6 linked regions of the Homo sapiens genome follow. The protein of the gene in region 1 purifies or fractionates together with the protein of each later gene. This does not show direct contact. Each region holds a gene or a part of one and is shown in the gene's direction. Other genes may lie near its edges. The genes, in order: MAP3K9, CLINT1, CLTB, AP2A2, NCS1 and DNAJA3.

The links.
Region 2: the proteins of MAP3K9 (region 1) and CLINT1 purify together in Homo sapiens (affinity purification with mass spectrometry; one large-scale study listed by BioGRID and IntAct). This does not show direct contact.
Region 3: the proteins of MAP3K9 (region 1) and CLTB purify together in Homo sapiens (affinity purification with mass spectrometry; one large-scale study listed by BioGRID and IntAct). This does not show direct contact.
Region 4: the proteins of MAP3K9 (region 1) and AP2A2 purify together in Homo sapiens (affinity purification with mass spectrometry; one large-scale study listed by BioGRID and IntAct). This does not show direct contact.
Region 5: the proteins of MAP3K9 (region 1) and NCS1 purify together in Homo sapiens (affinity purification with mass spectrometry; 2 studies listed by BioGRID and IntAct, with this or other methods). This does not show direct contact.
Region 6: the proteins of MAP3K9 (region 1) and DNAJA3 purify together in Homo sapiens (affinity purification with mass spectrometry; one large-scale study listed by BioGRID and IntAct). This does not show direct contact.

The regions. Positions count from the first base shown.
Region 1 is NC_000014.9:70,732,977-70,736,514, reverse strand, and holds part of MAP3K9 (mitogen-activated protein kinase kinase kinase 9), read left to right. Parts: intron 1-485; coding exon 486-554; intron 555-2,016; coding exon 2,017-2,129; intron 2,130-2,716; coding exon of another isoform or gene 2,717-2,758; intron 2,759-3,172; coding exon 3,173-3,538. UniProt on the Homo sapiens protein: Serine/threonine kinase which acts as an essential component of the MAP kinase signal transduction pathway. Plays an important role in the cascades of cellular responses evoked by changes in the environment.
Region 2 is NC_000005.10:157,800,133-157,803,670, reverse strand, and holds part of CLINT1 (clathrin interactor 1), read left to right. Parts: coding exon 1-21; intron 22-3,538. UniProt on the Homo sapiens protein: Binds to membranes enriched in phosphatidylinositol 4,5-bisphosphate (PtdIns(4,5)P2). May have a role in transport via clathrin-coated vesicles from the trans-Golgi network to endosomes. Stimulates clathrin assembly.
Region 3 is NC_000005.10:176,406,506-176,410,043, reverse strand, and holds part of CLTB (clathrin light chain B), read left to right. Parts: intron 1-3,335; coding exon of another isoform or gene 3,336-3,506; exon of another isoform or gene 3,507-3,538. UniProt on the Homo sapiens protein: Clathrin is the major protein of the polyhedral coat of coated pits and vesicles.
Region 4 is NC_000011.10:984,845-988,382, forward strand, and holds part of AP2A2 (AP-2 complex subunit alpha-2), read left to right. Parts: intron 1-587; coding exon of another isoform or gene 588-590; coding exon 591-738; intron 739-1,940; coding exon 1,941-2,109; intron 2,110-3,538. UniProt on the Homo sapiens protein: Component of the adaptor protein complex 2 (AP-2). Adaptor protein complexes function in protein transport via transport vesicles in different membrane traffic pathways.
Region 5 is NC_000009.12:130,224,377-130,227,914, forward strand, and holds part of NCS1 (neuronal calcium sensor 1), read left to right. Parts: intron 1-2,012; coding exon 2,013-2,111; 3' UTR 2,112-2,128; intron 2,129-3,538. UniProt on the Homo sapiens protein: Neuronal calcium sensor, regulator of G protein-coupled receptor phosphorylation in a calcium dependent manner. Directly regulates GRK1 (RHOK), but not GRK2 to GRK5. Can substitute for calmodulin. Stimulates PI4KB kinase activity.
Region 6 is NC_000016.10:4,439,343-4,442,880, forward strand, and holds part of DNAJA3 (dnaJ homolog subfamily A member 3, mitochondrial), read left to right. Parts: intron 1-2,032; coding exon 2,033-2,233; intron 2,234-2,925; coding exon 2,926-3,078; intron 3,079-3,538. UniProt on the Homo sapiens protein: Modulates apoptotic signal transduction or effector structures within the mitochondrial matrix. Affect cytochrome C release from the mitochondria and caspase 3 activation, but not caspase 8 activation.

The DNA.
Region 1 (3,538 bases):
ATTGAAGAAATAAAAGTATATTCTATCCAGACTTGAGTGAAGACCCCTTTAATGTCAGAAATTTTGAGAACTTCTATGTGATATTATTTCTGGTTTTAGTACCTTTTGACTAAAGAAAACACGTGATGAACAAAAGCCATTTTGAATTCAGTAATGTTAAGTGAGTTTTGCATCCTCATCCTTTTAAAAAATAATACATATTTGTCCAAAACATGCATACCTGTCTATAGACTGCTTGGGTATCTATGGATTCACAGTCCCCCTGCAACCGTGCTGCAGCTGCCCAGGGATCTTTGTCCTGGGCCTGTCTTGGCTTAAACAGGACCATCTTGTTAAGATTCTTTCATGGTGTGGGCTTTGTGTCTGGACAGTGGGAAGGCAGCTGGCGATGTGGTGTGAATCCAGCCTTGGGTGTTTTGGTGTGGGAGAGGCTGAGCTGGATGTGCCCTCCATTGCCTGCTACTGATTCTCTTTATTCATTGAAGATCCCCTCAGAGACGTGAGAAAGCTAATGGTTTAAGTACCCCATCAGAATCTCCACATTTCCACTTGGGGTGAGTCTCATCTTCACCCTTTCACCAGCTGTCCTGGTAACAATCTCCCTTCCATTTCCTTGTTCTTACAGCATACCCCATAGAATCAAGCCTCGTTATTGCCAGGGCTGAACTGACTTTTTTGTTTTTGTTTTTGTTTTAAGCAGTACCATTGTGCACCTTGGGAAAATTCCTGTGTTGATCTAATTTTACCATATTCTTCACTCCACTGACCACTCCAATTAGGATACTCCTGGCACTCTTGGTTTTAGAGAGGCTTAGATATGTGGCTATTTATCCTTTGGTCTTCAGCACTGGTTTTGACTTTACTAATCTGGATTTTCCTGGATCCAGAGCTGGAAGTGATGTTACGAGAGTCTCAGTAGGAAGCCCCAGGCTGTGGGTTTGGCAGCAGGCTTATCTCTGACTATATTTTGGTTGAAACCAGTGGTGGTTGGGATGTACTTTAATTTGCTGGTATTTCTGATAGCACTTGAAACAGAATTCTGAACAGCGAAAAAGTTGGTCCTCTGTCTCTCTCAAGATGGCTGGGACTTTGGGGAAAGTGGTCTTTAGTTGAATGATTCTTCCTAGACTTAAAAAAAAAAAAAAAAAGAGCCACTCTGGTCATAATCCCAATATTTCCAGGGCAACCATAGCCCACAGATTCCTCAGTCCTCCCTTTTACTGTCCTCTAGGGAAAAGACCAGTGCTTCTAGGCCTCTGGTTCCCCCCTCCTACAAAGTGGTTGGCAGGGTGCCCAGGCTGTATCCTCGGAGAGTTACCGGCTTTCCATATGGGCTGATGACAGGGATTTGAAAGCGAGCTCCTGTCCTCTGTCTCTCCACCCCCAGACAGACCAAGGGCTCTGCTTCAGCACTGTGCACTACCCACGTAGGTCTGTCCCACAGTGCACTGGGTTGGTGCAGCTTTGTGGGTTGGTTTTGCCTTTTAAAAAGGGGATGGCTTTGAAAGTTGCCTAAGCATGCCATAAAGCTTGGAAGGAAAGCCTGAGAAATGCCTTATGTGGAGTAGCCTGGTCCACCTCTGCTAGCTCGGCTGCCCGGTGCTTGCCTGGCTTCGCAGGTCTTTGCATCACCGTAACTGTCATGCCATGAATGTGTTGTGTCCAGTGTCTGCTTCGAGTGCTTCTCTCTTGAGATGGGCTCAGGCAAGACCCCCAGCCAGCAGGGCCATCCTTATTCTTTCTGTCTGCTTGCCAGCTTGCCCACTAGTTCTTTCTACAGTTCCACAGCAGCATGTGAGGGGGATGGGTCATGTCATTGCCCTTTTCTTCCCTGGAGCATGTGCATTTCTGTTTGTGAAGCAGGTGGGCTTGGTAAGAGTCATTGCCTGTATGTACTCCAAGGTTCTTTGGTAGAATGAAGCAGGCAGGGAGAAACGTCTCCATAGACCCATGGAGCTGAGGGTCAAGTAAGAAAGGTAACCAGTTCTGACAGTTTCCTCTTTTCCTCTGATTCAGCCTCAAGTCCCTGGTAGATGGATATAAGCAGTGGTCGTCCAGTGCCCCCAACCTGGTGAAGGGCCCAAGGAGTAGCCCGGCCCTGCCAGGGTTCACCAGCCTTATGGAGATGGGTAAGCATAGCTCCTCTTGAGAGTCTTGGCTGTCTCCCTGCTCCCTGGGGGCATTCTTGCCCAAGCTTCTAGGACCATTTAAGGACCCCTAGCACTGCTTCATGGAGGAAACATTGGGAATGTTTTTGTTCTAGAATGTTCAGTGTTCTAGAAACTCATACTACACTTGTATTAAGGGGCCGGTATTAGTCAGGGTTCTCCAGAGGGAGAGAACCAATAGCAACCAAAAGGAAGTTTATTAGGGAGAATTGTCTCACACAGTTACAAAGGCAAAGTCCCATGACAGGCCGTCTGCAAGCTGGAGAATGAGAAAAGCCTGTAGTATGGCTCCCAGGGAAGACAGTAGAGTGGCTCAATCCCAGTTTGAAAGCCTTAACACCAGGGAAACCAGCAGTGCAGCTCCCAGTCTGAGGCCTGAGAGCCTCCGAAAGGCCTCAGTTACAAGTCTGAGAGTCCAAAGGCTGAAGAACCTGGACTCTGATTTCCAAGGGCAAGAGGAGAAAAAGTGTCCCTCTCCAGAAGGGAGAAACAGAGAGAGGAAGCTCAGCAAACTGAGCATCCCCCTTTTTCTGCCTGCTTTGTTCTAGCCTTGCTGGCAGCCAGTTGGGTGGTGCCCATCGACATTGAAGGTGGGTCTTCCTCTCCCTGCCCCCTGACTCCCATCTTAGTCTCCCCTGGAAACAGCCTCACAGACACACCCAGCAACTGTGCTTCACCAGCCATGCAGGCATCCCTCAGTCCAGTCAAGTGGATACCCAAGTCACTATCACAGATCCCTTATGAAAGAAATGGCAAATTAGCGGATCTTTTATTCTGCTCTAAGGAAATGGGCTCTGGAATGGAGAGTGGTTTCCCTGTGTTGGGGGGTGGATAAAGCCCCCTTGGTTCAGTGTTCAATTCCATGTCCTGCTCATCACACCATTGAACCTTTGTGTCCCTGAGACTGAGACAGGAGGCCTGGGGTGAGGGGAAAGGGCCAGATTCTTATTCCTGCCACCTCATTTCCATTTCCTGTTTCTCTTCCACTCTTGTCATCTTCACAGAGGATGAGGACAGTGAAGGCCCAGGGAGTGGAGAGAGTCGCCTACAGCATTCACCCAGCCAGTCCTACCTCTGTATCCCATTCCCTCGTGGAGAGGATGGCGATGGCCCCTCCAGTGATGGAATCCATGAGGAGCCCACCCCAGTCAACTCGGCCACGAGTACCCCTCAGCTGACGCCAACCAACAGCCTCAAGCGGGGCGGTGCCCACCACCGCCGCTGCGAGGTGGCTCTGCTCGGCTGTGGGGCTGTTCTGGCAGCCACAGGCCTAGGGTTTGACTTGCTGGAAGCTGGCAAGTGCCAGCTGCTTCCCCTGGAGGAGCCTGAGCCACCAGCCCGGGAGGAGAAGAAAAGACGGGAGGGTCTTT
Region 2 (3,538 bases), on another chromosome or scaffold:
ATGGCACCAGCCAGTCAACAGGTAAGCTTCTACATTGGCCTTTTCTTTTGGTTTGAGAGTCATTTTTTAAAATGCCAAATAAAAGATAGATTGAAAAATAAGATTACTTATTTGCATTGGGTTCATTTTTTATATGAAATTAGTGAGTCTTGAGCATTATTTGGAATCATTGTGTTATTTTTGCTTATCTTTTTATATGTACACCCATTTCTCTATCCCTATTTTATACCTTTTTCTGACCCACCCTCAGACTAGCAAAACTTTGTTTGTGGTCAGTACTTATTGGTGGTTAATAATAGTATCCTCAAATCATTATCATACTTAGATTTTAATGACTCCTCATACCTGATGTACTGTGTCTTCCCTAATTAATAATAAATAGTATTTCAAGGCATCATGTACTTTCTGAAATTTTTCATCATAGATTTTGGAATCTATAGTTTCCATTTTTAATTTTTAAGATTAACTTGGAGAAACAAAAAATTGCATTTAAACTGTTGCCTTTACTTTCTTTATAAGCAAAAGGTACTGCTCTGCGCATTTTACTGTCTTTCCCTAAATTTTAATTGCAGCTGTCACCTTGGGCATGCCTAGAGATCATTTAACTTTTTATTCTTTTAATTGAACAAATATTTGTTGAACCAGACACTGATCTGGGTGCTTGTAAAAAACAGAGTTGTTGTCCTCATGCGAAGGTCAAGTGGAGAAAATAATCATTAATCAGAGTCACAAATAGTTATCTAGTGATAAACAATGGCAAGTGCTTCAGTCAGAGGAATGACATTCTCTGAAAGTATGTAACTACCAAACATATTTAAAGAGGGCGGCTGGGCGTGGTGGCTGACCCCTGTAATCCCAGCACTTTGGGAGGCCGAGGGAGGTGGATCACCTGAGATCAGGAGTTCGAGACCAGCCTGGCCAACATGGTGATACCCTGTCTCTACTGAAAATACAAAAATTAGCCGGGTATGGTGGCAGGTACCTGTAATCCCAGCTACTCGGGAGGCTGAGGCAGGAGAATCACTTGAACCCGGGAGGCGGAGGTTGCAGTGAACGGAGATTGCGCCATTGCACTCCAGCCTGGGCAACAACAGTGAAAAACTCCATCTCGGAAAAAAAAAAAAAAAAGAGAGGGCTACAGCAAAAGAACTGTTTACCTTGAATTTCTCATAGATGAGATTGATGATTTCTTCAGTTTGATTTCCAGTATGTGCTAGATTTTGAGTAATTTCTGATCAATTGTTTTCAAGAAAATTGATATTTTTAGGGTTGTATTTGATGATTATGGAGTTTTAATAAACTATTGTGTGACGTGTCAAAATAGTTTAACAAATACATCTTCTGTTTAAAGACAGTCTTTCCAAGCCTAAGTTCATTTCACATTAAAATGTAGACAGTAAGATGGGGGTATGACTAATGTGCAAAGTAAATTTATTATTCCCAGTTGTGTGTAATGATTTTTCAAAGCCGAATTGTGGCTGTGCACAGTGGCTCACACCTGTAATCCCAGCACTTTGGGAGGCCGAGGCAGGCGGATCACCTGAGGTCAGGAGTTCAAGACCAGCATGGCCAACATGGTGAAACCCTGTCTCTACTAAAACTACAAAAATTAGTTTGGCGTGGTGATGGGCACCTTTAATCCCCGCTACTCAGGAGACTAAGGCAGGAGAATCGCTTGAACCCAGGAGGTGGAGTTTGCAATGAGCTGAGATCATGCCACTACACTCCAGCTGGAGTGACAGAGCAAGACTCTTGTCTCAAAAAAAAAAAAACTTTAACTTAACCTTTAAGTGTAAGTCTATGCTGGAAATTACTTTTCACTGATAGTTTAGTATAATTAATGTAATATAAAGCCCCCTATTATTTCCTCCTCCTTACCTACTATGTTAAAATTCTTGGATTAGGCATGAACTTTATTCAAGCAATTCTCTTGCCTAAGCTTCTCGAGTAGCTGGGATTACAGTCACCTGCCACCATGCCTGGCTAATTTTTGTATATTTAGTAGAGACGGAGTTTCACTGTGTTGGCCAGGCTGGTCTCGAACTCCTGACCTCAGGTGATCTGCCTGCCTCAGCCTCCCGAAGTGCTGGGATTACAGGTGTGAGCCACTGCACCCAGCCCAGACATCTGGTTTGACCTACTTTCTTTCTCTATTTTTTTTTTTGAGACAGAGTTTCGCCCTTGTTGCCCAGGCTGGAGTGCAGTACACAGTCTTGACTCACTGCAACCTCTGCCTCCCGGGTTCAAGCGATTCTCCTGCCTCAGTCTCCTGAGTAGCTGGAATTTCAGGCATGCGCCACCACGCCCGGCTGATTTTTGTATTTTTAGTAGAGACAGGGTTTCTCCATGTTGGCCAGCTTGGTCTCAAACTCCTGACCTCAGGTGATCCACCTGTTTTGGCCTCCCAAAGTGCTGGGATTACAGGCGTGAGCCACCATGCCTGGCCAGCCTACTTTCTGAAATTCTTCAATTCCCTTTCCCGTTTTTCTGTAACTGCAAACTGTTCCTAAAATTATTCATTAAACTTGATTGGACTGTAATGCCCAAGGTTACGGACAGCTACATTAGTTGTGTAACAATTTATGTGATATATTTTTATATGTTTAAGATTTGAACTGTAGAATTAACTGGTAGTTAGCATGTAGTCATATAATACAGATATAGTGTCACAGAATATCAACTATTTTGGACTTCCTGGCATGAAATATTTAAAGGGCCCCTTTCATGCATCTGTGAAAAGTTTTAATGGAGCAATCAGAGAAGAATTAACTAGGAAGGTCAGATGGGTGGATGTAACTTTTCCTCTGTGACATCAAGATTGCTTTGAACAGAGAGATTTATTAAATACCAACATGCTTCCTTTACTTGGCAAGGAACCTTTGAGTGGTTTGTCTTCTCCAGTGCAAACAGTAGTTTGACTAATTAAATAGAAGTAGCAATTGATATTAATATAGTAACTGAGAAAGTTTGAATGAAATCTAGGAGGTTTCTTGCCTTAAATTTTATTTTATCTTAATAAAAAGCAACTAATAGAGATTGATATTAGAAGAATTTTTTAAAATTAAAGTTATCTCCTATTTGAAACCGTATGTTTAACCAGTTTGTGCAGCTCCCTCTTCAATCAGTACATAAATTTAGTTACTCCCAATCTCTATTTAAATATTTTAATAATATATTTTAAATTGAATTCAGCAGTGAAAGGAAATTGGGCATTAAATCTTTAGCACTTACACGAGAAGGTATAAGAATCTACCATATTAACATTGCTATTTGGTATGTCATTTGGGTGTCATTTACCAGATGTGCCCATATTTATAATAGTACCATCATGCAAGTAATGTGGGCACAAACTGTAAAGCTAAGCAGATATGGCATCTGTACCACTCACCAGCTAAATATATCCTCTGAGAAAATGTTCAGATTTTTGTGTGTGTGTGATTACATGTTCTTAGCATTCTCAAAAGTATATATGGTAAAATCATTGTAGAATATCTTACCAAGTTTAAAAATATATATGTAAAACCTAACTATCAGGATT
Region 3 (3,538 bases), on another chromosome or scaffold:
GCAGTAGCCTCAGGTTGCCCATGGTGATGTCTGGTTTTGGGAGGGAGAGGTCAAGTGGCCCACAGCAGCATGAGATGAAGGCAGCGCAAGGCCTTCCCTCACCACTGACGGGAGGCAGAACCCAGGCCATCTCCACACACAGGGCGGGCCCTTTGATCCAGAGATTCCACTTCCAGAATTTTCCCAAAGGAAATAATTGGACAAGGCCACCCAGATTCTTTGCAGGGTTATTTATAATGGCAGACAATTTGGAGACAACCTAAGTGTCCAGCATCAGGGAACTGAATAGATAGATTAGAAAACCAGGCTGTTGTTAAAAAGGGCAATCAGGGCCGGGTGCAGTGGCTGACGCCTGTAATCCCAGCACTTTGGGAGGCTGAGGTGGGTGGATCACGTGAGGTCAGAGTTCAAGACCAGCCTGGCCAACATAGTGAAACCCCGTCTTTACTAAAAATACAGAAAATTAGCCAGTCATTGTGGCAGGTGCCTGTAATTCCAGCTACTCGGGAGGCTAAGGCAGGAGAATCACTTGAACCCAGAAGGTGGAGGTTGCAGTGAGCTGAGATTGTGCCATTGCTCTCCAGCCTGGGAGATGAGAGTGAAACTCTGTCTGAAAAAAAAAAAAAAAAAAAAAAAAGGGCAATCAGATCTTCCTGTATTGACGTGAAAAGATGTCCACAATATATTAAGTGGAAAAAGCAGCTTGCAGAATAATATACACAGTATGGTCCTTTTTTTTTTTTTTTTTTTCAATTTTAAAAATATGTTTGGGCTGGGCGTGGTGGCTCATGCCTGTAACCCTAGCACTTTGGGAGGCCAAGGCAGGTGGATCATGAGGTTGGAAGATTGAGACCATCCTGGCTAACACGGTGAAACCGCACCTCTACTAAAAATACAAAATTAGCTGGGTGTGGTGGCACAAGCCTATAATCCTAACTACTTGGGAGGCTGAGGCAGGAGAATAGCTTGAATCCGGGAGTGGGAGGTTGCGGTGAGCCGAGATCACGCCACTGCACTCCAGCCTGGGCAACAAGAGCAAAACTCTATCTCAAAAAAATAAAACTAAAGGTTTGCACTACATATCTGAAAGGATGTGTACCAGCTGTTAACAATGGTTAGCCCCAAGGGTGGGGTGGGATGGGGATAAGAAAGGGGCATTCACTTTCACTGGGTTGTTTACAAATTCTTTAAGTGTTTTTATCCTGCAAAAAACGAGGAAAACCCAGCCGGGCACGGCGGCTTACGCCTGTAATCCCAGATTTTGGGAGGCCAAAGTGAGAAGATCATGTGAATCCAGGAGTTTGAGACCAAACTGGGCAACATAGTAAGACCCCATTTCTGCAAAAAATGAAAAATTAGCTGGGGCAATAGTGTGTGCCTATAGTCCCAGCTACTCAGTAGTCTTAGGTGGGAGGATTACAGCTTGAGCTGGGGAGGTCCAGGCTGCAGTGACTATGATTACACTACTACACTTAGCCTGGGTGAGTCTTTTTTTTTTTTTTTTCCTGAGATGGAGTTTTGCTCTTATTGCCCAGGCTGGAGTGCAATGGCACGATCTCGGCTCCCTGCAGCCTCCGCCTCCTGAGTTCAAGTGATTCTCCTGCCTCAGCCTCCTGAGTAGCTGGGATTACAGGCACCCGCCACCACGCCTAGCTAATCTTTTGTATTTTTAGTAGAGATGGTGTTTCATCATGTTGGCCAGGCTGGTCTCGAACTCCTGACCTTCAAGTGATCCACCCACCTCGGCCTCCCAAAGTGCTGGGATTACAGGCACGAGCCACCGTGCCCGGCATGACAGTCTTAAAAAAAAAAAAAAGAGGAAAACCCTAGTAAGTGTATTTCTAGTTAAGACTGCTTCTGTCCGCACCCACCTAACTCTCTTCCCCTTGCATACACACAAATCCATTTTAGTACTCTGAGGGAACTCAGACCACAGAGGCATGCAATAGTCCTCACCTCGGCCCCCCAGCCAGATGCCTGGTGGGGCTAAACCTCCCCTCAGAGCCTTCATTCCCACTCAGACTGGGCCAAAGAGCCTTGATCCTGGGGTCTTTGGCTGTGGGATCTTCTGAGCCCCGCCCTGGAGGAGCTGGCTTCTTGAATCCTCTGGGGGAGTAAACAATACTTATTTTCTTATGTAAGAGGGATGGGCTGGTACCTTATGCAGGGAGACTGGCCAAGTCCTGTTTCTGGAAAATTACTCAACTATCAGCAAGCTGGAAAAGTCCATCTCTAGGACTTCAGCAGCTTCATGTCTAGTTGGGCCCGAGGGAGTCAAAGAATGAGGATTTGCTTCTGTGCAGCTTGGTAGATCATTAAGACTTAGGCTGCCCAGGCTCTCTGGCCACATTCAGAAGGACTTTGCTTGACCCCACAGTTCTGTGTCCTAAAGTGCACCTGGAGCTGGAGATATGCTTGGAACCACAGAAGTATGTAGAACATGGCCGGGCACAGTGGCTCACGCCTGTAATCCCAGCAGTGGGAGGCTGAGGTGGGTAGATCATTTGAGGTCAGGAGTTCAAGACCAGCCTGGCCAACATGGAGAAACCCTGTCTCTACTAAAAATACAAAAATTGGCTAGGCAGGGTAGTGGTTGCCTGTAATCCCAGCTACTCAGGAGGCTGAGGCAGGAGAACTGCTTGAACCCAGAGGCAGAGGTTGCAGTGAGCTGAGATCGCACACTGCACTCCAGCCTGGACGACAGAGCGAGACTTTGTCTCAAAAAAGAAAGTACCTAGAACACTCTGAGCTGGATCATTTACCTTTCCTAAAGATTAGCATCACGAAGCTCAGAGAGGTGAAGTGGTGAATGCAAAGTCACCCAGGAAATCAGCCACTTCTGGAGTGCACCCCATTTGACTTGGCCCCCCGCCTTCTCCCTCCCGACCTGTCAGCCGTGGGTGAGCTGTGGGTGAATCTGAGGAGCCCGGGGCCTCCTTTCCAATCTGAGTGAGAACTCTTATTCTCACTGTTACTAAGAATCACAGCAGGTGTGTTTATTTGTAAATCATATCACATCAGTGCCATCCGAGAATCCTTACAGGCAGGGCAGGGTCACAGATGAGCTGAATCACTCAGAAGCTTAGTGGCAAAGCCCCAGCTTGCCTACATCTCCTGGGCTCCGACCCGGTGTGCTTTGCATTACGACTCTGTTGCTGGAACTGGCTGGCCACAGCGCCTGGGTCACAGGTGGAAAGCCCCAGCTCTTTAGGATTGAGCATAGCAGGTCTGGCCTGCACCTGCAGGGGGAGGAGAAACCTTGGCCTGTGCACACCCAACACTTTCAAGGATCCCAGACAGAGCTTTTGTGCTTCCTTTCTTCCTCTTTTCTGCAGCCCGTGCACCACCAGCGGGTCCAGCTACAAACCCAGTTGCCAATACAGCCTAAGGACGAGCCTGCCCACAACTATTCCAGTTCCATTTGGCACAGCCAGGGGCAGGGACAGAAGGGCCCTGCAGGACTCCGCCTCCCCACCTCTGCACAGATCCTCTCTCCTTTCCCCTAATACTCCCATCATCCTCCTTTTAGCTTCTTAGA
Region 4 (3,538 bases), on another chromosome or scaffold:
TGTGTTACTAGCCCTGTCTCTTGATTCATGGACCTTTCTGCCAGTGCTGCTGTATGCGCTGGCTTTCGTGGAGCAGTTATTGCAGAGCCTACAGTTTTGTTAGTGTTTGGGTCTATTTGTGCTTTTATAGTATCAGATTTGTGCAGGTTTTCTTTTTGAGATGGAGTCTCCCTTTGTTGCCCAGGCTGGAGTGCAGTGACGCGACCTCAGCTCACTGCAACCTCTGCCTCCCGGGTTCAAGCGATTCTCCCACCTCATCTTCCTGAGTAGCTGGGATTACAGGCACCTGCCATCATACCCGGCTAACTTTTGCGTTTTTGTAGAGACGGGGTTTCACCATGTTGGCCAGTCTGTTCTTGAACTCCTGACCTCAGGTGACTGGCCTGCCTCGGCCTCCCAAAGTGCTGGGATTACAGAAGTGAGCCACCGTGCCCGGCCTGTCTCAGTTTTGTAAATGCTTCCAGCTGGGTACACAAATGTGAATGAACTATATTAAAAATGCTCTCATGATGTATGGGTGCAGCCGGGAGGGGCAGGGTGGGCTGCGGGCCACTGGAGACTGGTGAGCACCGTTCTGTCTTGCCCAGAAGACCCTGCAGTGCGAGGCCGCCTGACTGAGTGCCTGGAGACCATCCTGAACAAAGCCCAAGAACCGCCCAAGTCGAAGAAGGTCCAGCACTCCAACGCGAAGAATGCCGTGCTCTTCGAGGCCATCAGCTTAATCATTCACCATGACAGGTGTGTCGGCTGCCTGTGGAGAGGCTTCGTCTCGCGCACACACACACGTTCCTTCTCGTTGGCACGAGACTGGGCGGATCATGTCTGGTTTGTCCACTCCATGGGCCTCCCCTTCGTCCTGCCTCTGTGCTCCCTGCCGGATGCTTTTTTTCTTTCTGTGCAGCCCGGCCCCTCCTGCTCTGAGCTCACCGTGGATTGCTTTGGTGACTGTGGTCTCATCCCACACGAGGGCCTTTTCCTCCTTCCCCTGAGCATCCCCACTCCTGACTGGCTTCTCATGTAGTGGAACAGAGAGGAGACGGGTGGGGTGGGGGGTGTGCGCGCATGTCCCGTGGCTTTGCTGGATGTGGAGCCGCACTTGGTGGGTCCAGGGTCGCAGGGCAGTGCTGGAAACGTCTGTGCCCATCCACGAAGCGCAGAGGCGCAGGGTGGCGGTCGCTCCACACAGCCTGGAGGGTCTGCCTCCTCTGCTCCCACGCCTTCTCTGCTCAGCAGTTGCGGCGCACCACATGTGGTCTGGCGTGGGTCTTGCGTGTGGGGCCATGCTTTAGGGTCCTGTGAGAATGAGATCGCAGTTCTCACCAGGCTCCCAATAATGAGGGCACGTGCCAGGCTGTGGGCAGACGCTCTCTACAGCTTGTGAACACCACCCATTTGCTACTACAGCATTTTTACAAATGATGAAAACTCAGTCTGAGAGTCACACTTCAGAACTGAGAGTTATTAAAACTGAAATTTCCCATTTTGGAGAAAGCTCTGTTGTTATGTGAGGAGAAGCCACATCCTGAGGAGACAGTAGAGTCAGTGGGGCAGCAGCCGCGCTCCCGGCCTTCTCGGCCTTCTCCCTGCCCTGGGCTGGTGCCTCTGGCTGAGACCCCATTGCCGGTCACAGCTTGACCGGCCTCCCGCGGGCCTGATGCAGATTGAGGCTCAGGAGGTGCTGGGAAGGCTCCAGTGGACACACGGGCTGCTGACTCACTGTGGGGATGCACAGGATGGACACAAAATGGATGTCAGGGGTGGGGGTCGGGCGTCATCTGCATCTGGGGAGGCCCCCGAGTTCCCACTTGAGCAGTGTGGTGGCGGTGAGTGCCGTGTGACTTTGCTGTCTGCCATCTGGACCCGTCGGGGAACGCAGACTCTGTCCAGTTTGTGTTGCACTTGCTGAGGAAACCCCACCCACTTCCCCTCCCTCCACACAGTGAGCCGAACCTGCTCGTCCGTGCCTGCAACCAGTTGGGCCAGTTTCTGCAGCACCGCGAGACCAACCTGCGCTACCTGGCCCTGGAGAGCATGTGCACGCTGGCCAGCTCTGAGTTCTCCCATGAGGCTGTCAAGACGCACATCGAGACGGTCATCAACGCCCTGAAGGCGAGTGCCCTGTCCTTGGGTTCTGCTCACTCCCTGAGCAGGTGCCGTGGGTCTTCCTGTGAAGGCTGGGGGTACGCAGTGCCTCCTGACTCCCCGCAGAGATGGAGGTGGTGCTGGTGCTGCTGGCCTCCGCCTGTCACCTACTCTTGGGAGGTCACACCACTGTTGAGGGCCATGCTGCCTGGAGATGGCCGGGTTGGCCCTGCTGTCCTGGTTAGGCTGAGCAGAGGAGTCTCTGGCAGCCCTTTCCCTGCTGGGGGCAGCCCCCGTGTGCCATCCTGCGCGTGCATAGTGCTGACAAGTAGAAATGGTTCTTCTTGGTAGAAAGATGAAATTTTTTTCCCTTATCTCCAAGAAAATCCCCCTTTTACAAAGGAAACTCACTTTGTTCGGGGATTAAAATTTCAGAGTTGGGGCCGGGCGCGGTGGCTGACGCCTGTAATCCCAGCACTTTGGGAGGCCGAGGCGGGTGGATCACAAGGTCAGGAGATCGAGACCATCCCGGCTAACACGGTGAAACCCCGTCTTTACTAAAAATGCAAAAAAAAATTAGCCGGGCGTGGTGGCGGCCGGTGCCTGTAGTCCCAGCTACTCAGGAGGCTCAGGCAGAAGAATGGCTTGAACCCAAGAGGCGGAGCTTGCAGTGAGCCGAGATCGCGCCACTGCACTCCAGCGTGGGCGACAGAGCGAGACTCCGTCTCAAAAAAAAAAAAAAATTTCAGAGTTGGAAGAGCCCAGTTGAGGTTGGCCATTGCCAGCCTTTGCGAGTCTCCAGAGCGACCCCGAGGGTTCGTTCCACATAGGGGACCCTGCGGTGTGTCCACCAAGTCCCTAGTCACCGGTGCACATGCGTTAGGGAGTGGGAGGCGGGGAGCTGCATGTCCCCCATCTGGCTCAGCCTCAGGCTGTGGCAGGGCTGCTCCCAGTCCCCCGCACGTCTGCGTGCAGCTCACAGATATTCCGGGTGGTGTGCAAGGGGCTCGTGGTGGGCATTTGGTATTCTGGATTCTTCTTGGTCCTGGTTTTGGTGTTTGTTTTAGTCAATCCCTATTGTCAGAAGGGCTGGACACTCATTTGCACACGGCCAGTGCTAGCGCTGGTGGTGCCCACTCTCCTGCCTTTGTTGGGAGCAGAGCTCGGGCTTTCTCGTGCTGCAGAGCCTCCTGGGGGCCCATCAGCACGGGCTCTGGGGTGGGGCGTGAGGACCTGCCTTGGGGCAGCTCCGTGTCCGAGGCAGTGGGGTCTTTGGCTGCATGGAAGGGAGTCCTTGATGGCCTGCACCAGGCAGTGCGCTCAGTCCTAGCGAAGCTGGCCCTTGTGGAGGGCAAGGGAGGCATGGACGAGCGGGCAGAATCCAGGCAGTGCGCTGGGTCCTAGCGAAGCTGGCCTGTGCGGGAGGGCCGGGCCAGCAGGCGGAACTCTATTCCGG
Region 5 (3,538 bases), on another chromosome or scaffold:
GTGAGACGCAGTCTCAAAAAAAAAAAAAAAAATTATCCAGGCATGATGGCACATGCCTGTAATCCCAGCTACTCGGGAGGCTGAGGGAGGAGAATTGCTTGAACCTGGGAGGCAGAGGTTGCAGTGAGCCGAGATCACACCACTGCACTCCAGCCTGGGCAATAAGAGTGAGACTGTCTCAAAAGAAAAAAAATAAAATAAAAGGAACCATAGACACTGGAGCCTACTTGAGGGTGGAGGGTGAGAGGAGGGTGAGGATCGAAACCCACCTATTATCAGGTACTATGCTTATCACCTGAGTGACAAAATAGTCTGTACAGCAAACCCCCACAACACAGGATTTACCTATATAACAAACCTGCACATGTATCCTTGAGCCTAAAATAAAAGCCTAAAAAAAGGGACTCCAAAGAAATAAGGAATCCTTCTTTAAATCAAACTTACTTAAAACTAAAATAACTTAAATGTAAATTTGAAATAATGACGTTAGGGAAATCCAGGTGTTACGTGCCTTCAGCAAAATAACATAAAATGGTCAGGTGCGGTGGCTCACACCTGTCATCCCAGCACTTTGGGAGGCCAAGGCGAGTGGATCACTTGAGCTCAGGAGTTTGAGACCAGCCTGGGCAACGTGATGAAACCCCGACTCTACAAAAAATACAAAAATTAGCCGGGTGTGGTGGTGTGCACCTGTGGTCCCAGCTACTCGGGAGGCTGAAGTGGGAGGATGGCTGGAGCCTGAGAAACCAAGTCTGCTGTGAGCCGTGATGGTGCCATTGCACTCCAGCCTGGGTGACAGAGTGAGACCCTGTCTCAATCAATCAATCGATCAGTCAATCATAGAAATTCCTGTAACGCAGGGCTGCTTATTAGATTCTGGCTGGAGACAGCTGTTTGCCCTAAAAGCTTTGACCTGAGGCCTGTACTTTCTTAATTAAAAAAGGGAGATTAGCCCATGTTAGAGGAGTGGTAGAGACGTGCTGGCCTCAGACCCAGCTGGCGTCTTGGTAATGATCAAAAGATTTATCGACAGAGTGTGGAGCACGGAATAATAAGTTTCTCGTGGTGTGCGTCCACGTGGCTTAAGGCCAAGGCCGCACATTCCTTACTGTCCCCCTGTCTGCACTTCCGTCATTTTGGGAAACAGCACAGACCCTGTAGTCACACTGACTGGGGTGTGAATCTGACTTCTCCGTTTCCCAGCCCTGGGGCCTGGGTAGGTGACGGAGCCTCAGCTTCCTCACTGGTAAAATGGGGATGAGAGCAGCACCCCCTTCTTGGCTTGGCCGTGAGGGTTCCATACACTGAGGGTTGCGCCGAGCTTGGCATATGTCGTGTACGCAGCGAGCGATCCCTGAGCACAGCTCGGTTGTGCTCATCGGCGCTGTTTTCGGCACTTACCCTCTCTGGATACCCGAGATCGAGTAGGTGCTCTCCGTGGCCTTTTCCTTGTGGTCCGCCGGCTTCCTTGAGAGATGCTCCGGGGAAGGGATTCTGGCCCAAACATCCCCTCCCCGAGAGACCCACTAAAATTCCTCTTTCTGAGCCATGTCCAGCCCCCTGCCGGGTCTCCCAGGGTCCAGTGTGGGCTGCTCCAGGAGCAGTTTAAATGCCCTTCCAAGAGTGACCCCAGAGAACTGCACGAGGCTCTCAGCCTTGTCAGTTACTCACATTGATGGGGTTTAATAGCATTAACCATGACACGTGTGGAGTTACAGGGCACTTCCAGTTGGTCAAGCACAGAGCTGTCACCCGAGTGCCTGGAGGAAGCCAGGTAATTACCCTCCATCCCCAGGTGAAGAAACATGCCCAGAGAGGTGGGCCACGGCCCAAGGCCACCCTGCCATGAGTGCCGAGGTCTGTCTGGTGCTGGCTGCTTGTAGGCCCTGAGCCACGTTGCCTCCCTCCTGATCTAACCTTGGAAGGGCTCTTGGGACCGGCCCTGGGCTGGGCTTGTCTAGAGCCCTCTCCTGGGAGGCCCTGCACCCTCAGCCGCCTCTCTCTGCTCACAGAATGCCGACGGGAAGCTGACCCTGCAGGAGTTCCAGGAGGGTTCCAAGGCAGACCCGTCCATTGTGCAGGCGCTGTCCCTCTACGACGGGCTGGTATAGTCCCAGGCTGGAGCTGGGTGAGTGCAGACTCGGGGCCTGGGGTGGGTCTGGGATGGGTCAGGGGTGAAAACCCAGCAGCAGGACACCTACGGTTGGCAGGTAATTACCTGGGTCTCTGGGGGTGTTGTGGTCAGCCTAGCAGGGACATAGCTGGGAGGAGGAGGCTGGAAGGGGGGCCTTCAAATTGGTCAGAGCTCCTCTGTTTTGATCATTTTTATAGACCCAGATCAGCCTGCGAGTTTGCTTGAACAGAATTTTTCTGGGCGCGGTGGCTCACGCCTGTAATCCCAGCACTTTGGGAAGCTGAAGCAGGCGGATCACCAGGTCAGGAGTTCAAGACCAGCCTGACCAACATGGTGAAACCCCGTCTCTACTAAAAATACAAAAATCAGGCGGGCGTGGTGGTGCGCACCTAGTCTCAGCTACTTGGGAGGCTGAGGCAGGAGAACCGCTTGAACCCAGGAGGTGGAGATTGCAGTGAGCCGAGATCGTGCCACTGCACTCCAGCCTGGGTAACAGAGTGAGACTCCATCTCAAAAAAAAAAAAAAAAAGAAAAGAAAAAAAAAAAAAGAAAAGAATTGTCCTGGGTGGAAGACACTTTGAAAATTAGTTCCCAACCAGGGCCAGGGACCTGGGAGAGCAATTTCTTATCCCCTCTCTGAGCAGCCGGTTGAAGACCTAACTAAGCTCCTAGCTGTCACAGAATGATAGCACGCCTGGCAGAGGCCCCTGTTGCTGGTAGAGAGCTGTCTCCCTTCTTTCCTTCTCCTCTCCTCCCTTCTCCCCTTTTTTCCTGCCTCTTCTTTGTGGAGTGTTCAATGTAGTCTGCGGGGAGTGGGTGTGAATAACGTCCAAGGTATTGTCCAGAGATCAGCGTTCTTGTCCACGTCCTGGTGAACCAGTGGATGCCTGCTGTTGGTGTATATGTAAGGGTAGAATTGCTGGGACATAGGATATGTGTAATATTTAGCTTTGGTAGTTACTAGAAAACAGTTTCCAAAGTGGTTGTGCTGTTTTGCGGTCCCACTAGTAGTGTATGAGAGTTCCAGTTGCTCCACATCCTTGCCAACACTGGGTATTTTCTGTCTTTTCAAATTTTAGCCATTTTTGTGAGTATGGAGTAATAACTTGTTCTAAGTTTACTTTGCATTTCTCTGATAAGCAGTGACGTTGAATGCCTTGTTATAAGTGTATCACCCATTTTAATGTGCTCATTTGTGATGTGCTAGGTTAGTTATCCATTGCTACATATTACATTACCACAAACAGCAGCTTAAGAACAAACATTAGGAATTTGGCACAGTTAAGCTGGGTGCCTCTGGCTCAAGGACTCTCAGGAGTATGCAGTTCAGCTGTCAATAGGGTTTGCCCAGGTCTATCCTGGATTTAGCAGTGCAAGTTCCCTGTTCTAGGAAACTTCTCAGTC
Region 6 (3,538 bases), on another chromosome or scaffold:
GAGACTCCCAATCAAAAAAAAAAAAAAAAGAGTTGAGGTCTCACTCTGTTACCTAGGCTGGAGTGTAGTGGCGAGATCACAGCTCACTGCAGTCTCAAACTCTTGGGCTCAAGCAGTTTTCCTGCCTCAACCTCAACTTCCTGAGTAGCTGGGACTACAGGTTCCCCACTGCACCCAGAAGATTCAATTTTTAATGGGGCGGGGGGGTGTTATTCTTGTGAATGTGTTTTTCCACATGGTTAGTTGATCTGATGTTTCTGCCAGGGGCATGAGTTTTGGAGAGTCCTAATCCACCGTGTTGCTGACTTCTGTCTTCAAGGGGGATGTTATTAAACGGACCGAGCCTCAGAACCTAAGAGCAGCAATTCCTTGGGAAGGGCTGGAACCAGGAGATAAAACCCACCAGGAAGTCATGAACTCCCACCTGACTCCTCCTCTGCCAGCCTTCCTCCTTTGCATCTTAACTGGGTGCCCTAAAAGTTACCCTAGGCACCAAGCTGTCCTCCACCTGCTTTCTTAGTCCCCCTCCATTCTAGGTGGAAGTGTCTTTTCCTTTGGAGGAAGCGTACTCTTTTCTGTTTGGCCTTAAGGATAGTGCCTATTTTTTTGAGATAGTGTCTCACTTTGTTGCCCAGGCTGGAGTGCAATGGTGCAATCACGGTTCACTGCAGCCTCAACCTCAACCTCCGTGCTCAAGCAATCCTCCCACCTCAGCCTCCCAAGTAGCTGGAACTATAGGCGTGCACCACCATTCTTGGTTAATTTTTTTGTATTTTTCTTGTGATGGGGTTTCACCATGTTGCCCAGGCTGGTCTTGAACTCATGAACTCAAGCAGTCCACCTGCCTTGGCCTCCCAAAGTCCTGGGATTACAGGTGTGAGCCACCATACTCAGCCTAGGGCAGTGTCTTTTTAATTAAAGAAAAAAAAAGTAAGACAAACACATAAAAAAAAGATACAAAGTGAGGGCCAGGCACGGTGGCTCACGCTTGTAATCCCAGCACTTTGGGAGGCTGAGGCAGACGGATCACGAGGTCAAGAGATCGAGACCATCCTGGCAAACGTGGTGAAACCCTGTCTCTACTAAAAATACAAAAAAATTAGCTGGGCGTGGTGGTGCATGTCTTTAGTCCCAACTACTCGGGAGGCTGAGGCAGGAGAATCACTTGAACCCGAGAGGCAGAGGTTGCAGTGAGCCGAGATCGCGCCACTGCACTCCAGCCTGGCGACAGAGCAAGACTCCCGTCTCAAAAAAAAAAAAAAAGATACAAAGTGAATACTACATTTTTCCTTGTCCCTCCCTAATCCCCCTTTTTGAGGTAGTTAGTCCTTATTAACAGTTTTGTGGGCCAGGCCCAGTGGCTCATGCCTGTAATCCCAGTATTTTGGGAGGTCGAAGTGGGAGGATCGCTTGAGGCCAGGAGTTTGAAAGCAGCCTGGGCAACATAGCAAGACCCTGTCTCTACAAAAACTTAAAACAATTTGCCAGGACTGGTGGTGTGCACCTGTAGACCCAGCTACTGTGGAGGCTGAGGCAGGAGGATTGCTTCAACCTGGGAGGTTGAGGCTGCAGTGAGCTAGGATTGCACCACTGCTATTGTCGTTGCTGTTACTTCTGTTACTCCGGTTGTTCTGGCTTGCAGAAAACCTTTCGATGAAGGTAAGGGTAGGAAGCATAAATTCTCTACGAGGTAATGTCCCCTGAGGAGAGAGGTGAAGTGTGAATCTGTGAAGAATCCAGGGTGCCTGTGAGGTCAAGCGAGGATCAACACAAACATTTTCCCAGCATGCGCGACGGCGGGAGAGTTCGTGAGACTTTTGGAAGCACTTCACGCCCTACACTTAGCATTCAGTTTGGTCATCTCATCCCTCTTCTAGGTGCTAGTCACAGGCCCACCCCAACCTCATAGGATGTGTTTGCACACAGGGCCACTTAATAAATGTTATGGCTGCCTTATTTGCTGTGAACTCTTGTCTGTATTCCTGGGCCTTGGTAGACCTGGGATGCCCAGTGGCTCTGCCTTTCACTGTAGGTTTTGAGTGATGAGGTGAAGAGGAAGCAGTACGATGCCTACGGCTCTGCAGGCTTCGATCCTGGGGCCAGCGGCTCCCAGCATAGCTACTGGAAGGGAGGCCCCACTGTGGACCCCGAGGAGCTGTTCAGGAAGATCTTTGGCGAGTTCTCATCCTCTTCATTTGGAGATTTCCAGACCGTGTTTGATCAGCCTCAGGAAGTAAGTTCCTCACTTGGAAGAATTATTCAAATTTTAGACTAAGTATGGGTCAAACAAATTTTTTTATCAGTTTCTGTTTCTCAGAAAGGCAAGGCAGCTTAAATGGAGTGATCTGGAGGCAGCCATTTTAGTAGAAAATAATTTCAGTATTTGAAAAATCGCATAGGTAGTAATGAGTATGTCCATTCTGATGGTATTCTTAACAGTTGCATAATGAGGTAGCACCTAAGGCTTTCAGAGCCCATGAGGGTGTGAGTGTTGTCTCTCATCTGCTACAGTATTCCAGGAGAGTTCTGTCCGGTGGGAAGGCACTGCTGATCCTCTCTCATTTATGTCCTTATAAGACACTGTCAGAGTGGAAGAGAGAGGGGATATATTTATGATCTAAATTATGATTGTGGATCATTCAGGCTGTTTTTAAGTGCCATGTACGAGTATTTATCTGTGAACATTTTCAGTCTGTTGAAAGTACGTTTTCATTTAAGTCATACATTATCTCTTAAAAATCCCAAAGAGTAGGGCAGAATTCGTTCAGTGAGTCCTACCTATGCTTACTTGGCAGAGTGCAAGTAAGTACAGTGGTGAAAGAGTGACTGAAAATGTGGGCCAGTACCCTCCTTTCCCTTTAGAGCCGAGCGTCAGTTTTGGTCGTTGCAAACAAAAGTTGACAGGCTGTCCCTTGGTTTCTTTAGTACTTCATGGAGTTGACATTCAATCAAGCTGCAAAGGGGGTCAACAAGGAGTTCACCGTGAACATCATGGACACGTGTGAGCGCTGCAACGGCAAGGGGAACGAGCCCGGCACCAAGGTGCAGCATTGCCACTACTGTGGCGGCTCCGGCATGGTAAGGCTCTGCCCGAGACTCCACCTCCCACGGCTTGCACCACTGACTGAGAAGAGCTGGTTGTGGCACTGCTCCCAGAGAACGTATGCTGGGAATTGGGGGAGTTGGTGAACTCAGCCTGGCTGTCTTTCCCCCGTGACCCTGAGGAGACGAGCCTGTGCTCCTCTTTCCCTGATACCACAGGCTCAGCAACCAGAGCACAGCAGCTCCGGGGGCGGGGCGGGGGATTGCATCCAGTTGTCACTTTCTTCTTTATTTTTCTAACAATTGCTTTGGTAATTCAAGGGGAAATAATCTTTTTTAAATGTACTGTTCAGCTCCCAGGAGTCTTCAGGTACTTCTGTAGACAGGCGGTATCATATTTTTCAGTGTCGTGTGGTCAAGTTGATGATCTGGAGTGCAGAAGTTTGTGTGTTCTAGAAAATCAGATGAACAGATTGAGGCCCTGCACCTGGGTTCC